2 linked regions of the Homo sapiens genome follow. The protein of the gene in region 1 interacts with the protein of each later gene in a pairwise test. Each region holds a gene or a part of one and is shown on either strand. Other genes may lie near its edges. The genes, in order: ZFHX3 and SPECC1L.

What was found.
Region 2: the proteins of ZFHX3 (region 1) and SPECC1L interact in binary tests that used the Homo sapiens proteins (3 or more experiments, as listed by UniProt).

The regions. Positions count from the first base shown.
Region 1 is NC_000016.10:72,782,500-72,786,416, reverse strand, and holds the end of ZFHX3 (zinc finger homeobox protein 3), read left to right. Parts: 3' UTR 1-3,532; downstream 3,533-3,917.
Region 2 is NC_000022.11:24,269,116-24,273,032, forward strand, and holds the start of SPECC1L (cytospin-A), read left to right. Parts: upstream 1-1,715; 5' UTR 1,716-1,868; intron 1,869-3,917. UniProt on the Homo sapiens protein: Involved in cytokinesis and spindle organization. May play a role in actin cytoskeleton organization and microtubule stabilization and hence required for proper cell adhesion and migration.

The sequences.
Region 1 (3,917 bases):
ATAATAACCCACACACACAAAGAGTGTTGAGGACTTGTAGCTTAAAAAAAATAAGTTTTAAAAACTGACTTTCTGTATTTATGATAGATATGACCATTTTTGGTGTTGAGTAGATTGTTGCATTGGAAATGAACTGAAGCAGTATGGTAGATTTAAAAGGAAAAAAAAAAAAAAACCTTTTGTGTACATTTAGCTTTTTGTATGGTCCAGCTGACAGCTCCTCATTTGATGTTGTCTTGTTCATTCCTAGCAGATGATAGATTGCAATCCGTTGATTCGCCTAAGCTTTTCTCCCCTTGTCCCTTAATTCCACTTTCTCTTTCTTGTCCCTTAATTCCACTTTCTCTTTCCTTCTCCCACCTCCCGTCCTATAATCTCCCACTTAAGGTAGCTGCCTTCATTTCTTAGAGGGAGCTGCAGAATTATTTTATAAAACTAAAGAAAGAATTTCAAGGGATTCTAGGGGTCATTAGGATCCTCACAGATTATTTTTGGTTGGGGAGTTGAAACTTTTTAAAGGCATATAATTCTAGTTACCTGTGTCTGTTAGCTTTGTGCATTTATTTTTTATTTATCCTTCTTTTGGCTTTTTTTTCTTTGTACCCCTTCTTTTCCTCCTTGTTTGGTAGGAGCTTCAAATATTCTTTTTTTTTCTATACTAAAGGATTTGTTTCCATTTGTGTAATTGGCTGTGTACTTTTCTTTTCTAAAAAAAGTTTTTGGTTAGGGATTTGGTTTTTGGTTTTGTGTTTGTTTTTTCTTTCCTCTCTCAGAAAAAAAAATTTCATGCTTTAAATAAAATCCAAAGACACACCCTTTCACTGCTGATGCAGAAAAAAGGGAAAGGGTTCTTGTTACTTGAGAATTTGTTTCTGATTTAAACAAACAAGACTTAGTTTAATAAAAGAAAGAGAAAAACAAAAGATTCCCAGGTTGTTATGTGCTTCTTCTGCAAGCAGAGAGGCAAATGTTAATGACAATTCCATATACCAAAAGACACATTTTTTACTTCAAAGTTTTGTCCTTGTGTTAGGCAGTCTGAGCAGCGAGTGATCCAGAGCGCAGCCAACAAAGCAGCAGATAGCAGTGTACAGAAAGCAAAAAAGGAACTGTATGTGAGGCACTTGTTTCTGTTAATATCCATATTCCTGTTAACACACACCCTTTCTCATGTAAAAAGAAAAATAAATAAATGGTCTGAACTTTGAAAACTTTGTGCTGCTAAAACATAGATTTTGGAGACAAATAAATAGATGCTTTGCTGTTTCACTTTCATAGCTAAACATCAACAGAAACCATCTCCCCTTGCCCCCAAAGTGTGAAATCCTTCTTCCCTTCGTTTTCTTCCTTATGTTTCAAAAGGGAACTTTGAAGACTGTGAATACAGGTTCCATTGGTCACCTTTCGGGCTTCTTTCCCCAGTGCTGAAGCCACTCATCGACTTTGCAAAAGACTGGAGCATTCCAAGATCTGAAAATGGATTTTTTTTCTTTTTTTCTTTTTTAGCCGGGACTATTTTATTTTTATGAATTTGTTTTTAGTTTAATGAAATAGTAGATCCTGAAATGTTGTACATATTTCTAACTAGGCTGATGCACAGTGCAAATTCCTTTTTTAATTGTTTTTTTTAAGTAGAAATACTAAAGAAAGAATACCATCTAACTATTCATACCAGTATCCAGTTGTAGCATAAGGTGTCAAAAGCAAGTACGCAAAACATTTACTGTTTTAACAAGCTATTTCCTTTTAACAAGAAATCTTGTATTTCTTCCTGTGTTTGAGATGAACATTTTTAAATTTTAAAGTTGTACAGTTTTTTGTTTTCCATTATTTTATCTTGTTTGTAACTCTATGAAATATATATATATATATTTTTTGCCATTTAACTGTTGTATGTTACTCTGTGTCTGTACCATATAGAAAAAAAATTGTTTTTGTTTTTGGTTCTCTATGTGATATCAGTTAACAATGTAACACTAGCTTTACCTGTCAAATTCTGCTAGGTCTTCTCTGAAAACGTTGTTTTTAAAAATGATATTGCTTGGTAATAGTGCAATTTCTATCCTTTTCCCTCCCCCCTCAACTTTTAAGTTCTTTTCTTTATAATTTTGCTGCCCCCTCCCTGATGGTTTGGGTTTTTGTTTTTGTTTTTGTTTTTTTTTTTCATGGAGCTACTATGCCATCCTCCCTCTGTGAGGCAGAGTGACTGTCAGTGTTTTGTTATGCCATGCCTTGAGCTGTGGGTGTTTGGCGACAATAAGGTGGTTGAATAGATTGGCTGAGCACACTTCCACCCACCTAGTGTTCTCAGAGGGGTTATGTGATTGTTTCAACCTGGAGTGGGTTGCACCCTTAATGCTTTCCTCTGCAACTAAACCGCCCACATATATGTTCATTGAAAAAAGTAAGAATAATTCTCAGCACTAACCCAGAAGTAGCAAAGCAGTCAGTGATGGTGAACATTAGAGGTCAAACATGAGTTAGATGTTTGTGGGCTGACAGCCATCGTGGCTATGACCAGTACTATTTACAAAGCATGAATTCACTACAATGCTCAACTGTTTGTTTAGCTTTATCTCACTTGGGGAATTTATTCCTGTCTGCTGCATTGTAGGTAGCTGGGTAGGATATATTTCCACTTGCTTTTTAAATTAGTTCTTCACCTCCATTGACACTCGTTTTTTGGTTTTCTCCCTATAGTGTGGGTTGGTGCTAGACACCAGTCTGACCCACAGAATGGGAGTTATTTCATCCATCTTTCCTCCATCCTTCCAAAAACCACATATCTACACAAGGAAAAATTTAATACATCTAGGAATTTTTTTTTTAATTACAAGCTATTTAAAGAGATGAATGTGGCCAAAGTTTTACACAATTGAAAATAAAGTAAAACAGACGGCATGTGTTTAAACCTGAGTTTATCAGGCATGGCAGGAAGTTGCAGGAGAGAGAGGCAGTGACCCAAGCCAGTGCACTTGATGTTCATGGACATATATTTTTTTTAAATAATAAATTAAAACATTTTAAATAGAAGCATAAATTGAGTTGTTTGTTGGCGCTGAGATACTGCCCACTGTGAAACAAAGCTTTGACTAGTTTTTTGTTTGTTTACTTTCTTCAGGGGGGAGGGGGGCAAGTTTGGGTAGGAAAGAAAGCATAAATGAACGTGACCCTGAGGTGAAGAGGTATATGAACAGCCTTTGCAATGTACAAAAAGAAAAAAAAACAAAAAACAACAAAAAAAATAGAGCAAGTGAAACCAAAAATGATGTTCTTGGTGTTTTTCTATAATGTAGTCTTGTTAGCTTTTTTGTTACTGTAACAATGCTGATCTCGAACTGTACCAAAATACATGGAGACTAACAAACAGAACCACATGGAACTTTCAAACTGAAAAAAAAATTTGTCACAAAAACTTTGTTGTCATAGTTAAGTTGATTGTAGATGGTAATTGAATATACTCCTTTGAAAATATTTCATCAAGTATGTTTCCTGCTCATTGTGATACATTAAAAAAAAAATATGAGCAAAAGCTCCTGTCTCTGTTACCACATTTGTGCACATGCATGTGTGTGTGCAGGAGAGAGAGGCTGATGGCTGGCAAAGTATAAATGTGAATACCTTGAGGTTGTGTGTGCAGGGAGTACTTATCCCAAGGTACAAAAGGATGTACACGAGCCCTTTAGTGTTTCTAAAGACGCTTGTATTTCCCATCTCCTGGGGCTCATGAATGTCAGAAGTTTGGGCCATGATGCCGTCTGCGTTTCTTCATTGGGAGGGGTGAGTCTGATATCTTGGACGATATTTGGCCCTAGAGTGCCCTAATAGCAACTAGATTTTTAATTCAAATATTTATATGAAAGTTTTTGATGCTTGACACAATTGCAGGCAAAAAAGTTTTACTGATTGATAGCCAT
Region 2 (3,917 bases), on another chromosome or scaffold:
TAATCCAGCAATGGATTAAACATGTATCACGACCAAGTTGGGGTTTTCCTAGGAAACTAAGATTATGTAATAAAAGAAAAAACTATTAAAGTAGTACAAACTATCAAAGGAAAAAACCTGTATGATCATTGCAACAGGTTCATTTGCGACATAATACAATTTTTTTCTTTTTTTTTTTTTAAGTCTTTTTGGCTGTAAGTTTATTCAATGCAAAATAATCCTCTCCAATTCTACTGAGGTGGCTGACGGTGTCCACGACCAAATTTGCCTCTAAACTGGAATTCGGTTGCTGACCCAGCCCCAGCCTCGGCTTTCTTGTCGGCACCAGGGGGCACAGCACTCCTTCTGTAGGTATCTCTGTCGGCTTCTCCTCTTGTGAGTCTTGCAGGTCGCTCACCCTCCAGACCTTTAGACCGAGGCCTGCCAGTCCCTGGACGGCTGCGGCGTAGGGTGGCAGGCACAATCTCCAGGGGCAGATGAAGGTAATCACGGAGATACTGGATATCCTCATTGGTAAGGTACCAGTAGACATGTCTCCAGGCAAACTGTTCCTTCACGTAGTAGCCTCGGGACTACATGACAGGAAGGTTGGGCACACACATTCTTTTTTTTTTGAGAGGAGTCTCACTCTGTCGCCCAGGCTGGAGTGCAGGGGCGCGATCTCGGCTCACTGCAACCTCCGCCCCCTGGGTTCAAGCAATTCTCCTGCCTTGGCCTCCCGACTAGCTGGGATTACAGGTGTCTGCCACCGCGCCTGGCTAATATTTTTGTATTTTTAGTAGACACGGGTTTCACCATCTTGGCCAGGCTGGTCTTGAACTCCTGACCTCGTGATCCGCCCGCCTCGGCCTCCCAAAGTGCTGGGATTACAGGCCTAAGCCACCGCGCCCGGCCGGGCACATTCTTGTCTGCCAACTCCAGGTGCTTAGGCATGTGGACATCCTTCTTGACCACCGTGACTTCCTCTTTAAAAAGGAGTTCATAAATGGCAATCCGGTTTTTCTTAGGCATCAGCATTCTGGGGAGGAGCAGCCGCTAAGGTGGCAGGGTGGCCCGGATGGGGGCCGATGGAACTCGAACTCCCCCAGAATTTCTTTAATATTTTATATATATATATATATATATATACATATATATATGTATATATATACACATATATATACATATATATATACGTATATATATATGTATATATATACATATATATATACGTATATATATATACGTATATATATATGTATATACATATATATATACATATATGTTGCTCGCTTATTCTTTTTGTCTGTTCCCTTATGTACCGGGAGTGCCAGGAGGACAGGGCTTTGTGTTTTCCTCACTGCTGTCTGGCTCATGCATAGCACAGTCCTTGGCACACGGTAAACACGCTGAGGAGAACTTTTGGGACTAGCGGACTCTGAGCATCATTCCGCTGGGCCCAGTGGGGCCTCTGAAGGGACCCGCCTTGCCCGGCTCCAGCCCAAGACCTGAGGCATGCGCACCGGCTGGCCGGCTACTTTCTTGACCGGCCAAGTGGCAGAGCGGCTGCGCGACCCAGTGCCGAGACGGACGCGAGCCGGAGATGGGGGAAGGGGAGGGGGTGGTGGTGGGGGACGGCGGCGCCTGCGCAGTGAAGGAATGTAGGCGGGGCCTCCACGACGCCTGCGCAGACGGCCGCAGCCCTGCTGGGCGCGAAGGGGCTGGCCAAGGGCGGGGCCCGCGAGGGAGGCCGGGCGGCCCGGCAAGCGGCGCTGCGGGGTAGGCTGCTTTCCTGAGGCCGGACTCAACGGGTCTCGGCTGAGCCACCGGGTGAGCTCACCGCCCAGCCCAAACCAGGAGATTGCGAGGGAGCGATGCGGTGCAGCGCGGTAAGAGCAGCAGCCGGGTTCCCGCAGTGTTCGCTGGCGGGTTGGTTTATCGCCTCAGCGCCGCCCGCGCTGCCGCGCCCGGGCGTCCCCGCAGACCCCGGCAGGCCCAGCGCCTGCGCCGTCTCTGCTCCTGGGCCCCTCCAGTGTGTCCCGCGCCTGCGCCTTTCCCTTCCCGCGCCGTCCTCGTTCTGGGCTTCGGGGCTTCTGGAACAACCCGCAGGCTTCGCCGCCGAGACCCACTGGCCTTCGTCCGTTGGTGTTGGGGTTCAGCTGGTTCTGGGACCCCGCTTGCGGCTTGACTGTGTGCAGACAGGCCGGGTGCGACCCTCGTGCTTGCCTTTCCGCCGCTCCGGGAGAGGCTGGGGCTGCCGCCCCATCGCCCGGGTCCCTTGCCTGGGGCGGGGACAGCGTTGTTCAGTGGCCCCGAGGGCGCAGAGCGGAGGAGCAGGGGCCACAGGCGGCGGACCCCGGGCCTGCTGCCGGTGCTGCTTCTGCTGTGGCCGGCGCCCGAGGCGGACGGAACGTCCTTTTTTCTTGAGACGTGGTTAATTGCATCAGGTTGGATGTGAATAATCCGGTACCTGTCTGAGGAAATTTTGCGTTTCCAGGAATTTGGTAATTGTATTACCTTAAGTAGTTAAGTCTAAGACATCATAGTCGCGGCACGTTGGGCAAGCTGCCCTGGAGATGACGAAAAGAAATCAGTTTCCAGTAGTTTTAGCCCATTTACAGAACACGCAAAAATTCTGTGATCATTCAAATGCGGGGAACCTTGATTTGTTGATATCCTTGATCATTTGTCCAAGTACCAGAAGGGCGAGGAAAAGATTCCCGTGAACAGCCCAGGTGATTTCAGGGAACAGTGTTTTCTTTTGTCAAAAGAGCCTCTTAAGCCATGATAATATTTCCCAAGCTTATAACAGATACAAGCCTTTAAAAAATGGCATTTGCTGTCACCCAGTAGGACACATCTTGAGATGAAATCAGAGCTGTAGGCTTTGTAGACAACAGCAGTCATTTCTGGTGGCTTCAGGGAGTGGAGGGGGACTGCAATTTTGCCAATGTAGGTGATACCAAAGGGACTATAGTAATTTTTTCTTCGTAATTAAAAACCAGGCCAGGCGCGGTGCCTCATGCCTGTAATCCCAGCACTTTGGGAGGCCGGGGCGGGCGGATCACCTGAAGTCAGGAGTTCAAGACCAGCCTGACCAACATGGTGAAATCCTGTCTCTACTAAAAATACAAAAAGCGCGCGCCTGTAATCCCAGCTACTCAGGAGGGTGAGGCAGGAGAATCGCTTGAACCCGGGAGGCGGAGGTTGCAGTGAGCCGAGTTCGCGCCACTGTACCCCAGCCTGGGCTACAGAGCGAGGCTCCGTCTCAAAAAAACAAAAACCAGATATAACAAGGCCGAGCTCCCTGGCTCACGCCTGTAATCACAGTAGTTTGGGAGGCCGAGGCGGGTGGATCACCTGAGGTTAGGAGTTCGATACCAGCCTGGCCAACATGGTGAAACCCCGTCTCTACAAAAAATATAAAAATTAGTCGGGCGTGGTGGCACACGCTTGTGATCCCAGCGGCTCGGGAGGCCGAGACAGGAGAATTGCTTAGGAGGCAGAGGGTGCAGTGAACCGAGGTCTCGCCACTGCACTCCAGCCTGGGCGACAGAGTGAGACTCTGTCTCAAAAAAAAAAAAAAACAGCTATTACAATATACATGTATGTTGTAAAATAACCAAACCAACATAGAAGGGTATATAGTGAAAGGAGAAGTATTGTTGTGGGTAAAATTGTTTCAATAAATGGCTAATCCAGTATTTTTTTCCTCCAAAAAAACACCTTTTCCCCTTTGATTTAGTGTATACCACACAGAGTCGCTTAGCCGATTCAGTGACTTTTTTGATAGCTGGAGAATGCTTCCTAATGGTTGCAGGTGTGTAGGGGTTTTCTTGACATTTTCAGTAAGAAAGTGAATGTTGTGCCATAGGAAAGCTTTATCACAGGTGCACGTTGGTAGCCAACTAAATAACGTGAGTGTCAAGTACAGTATC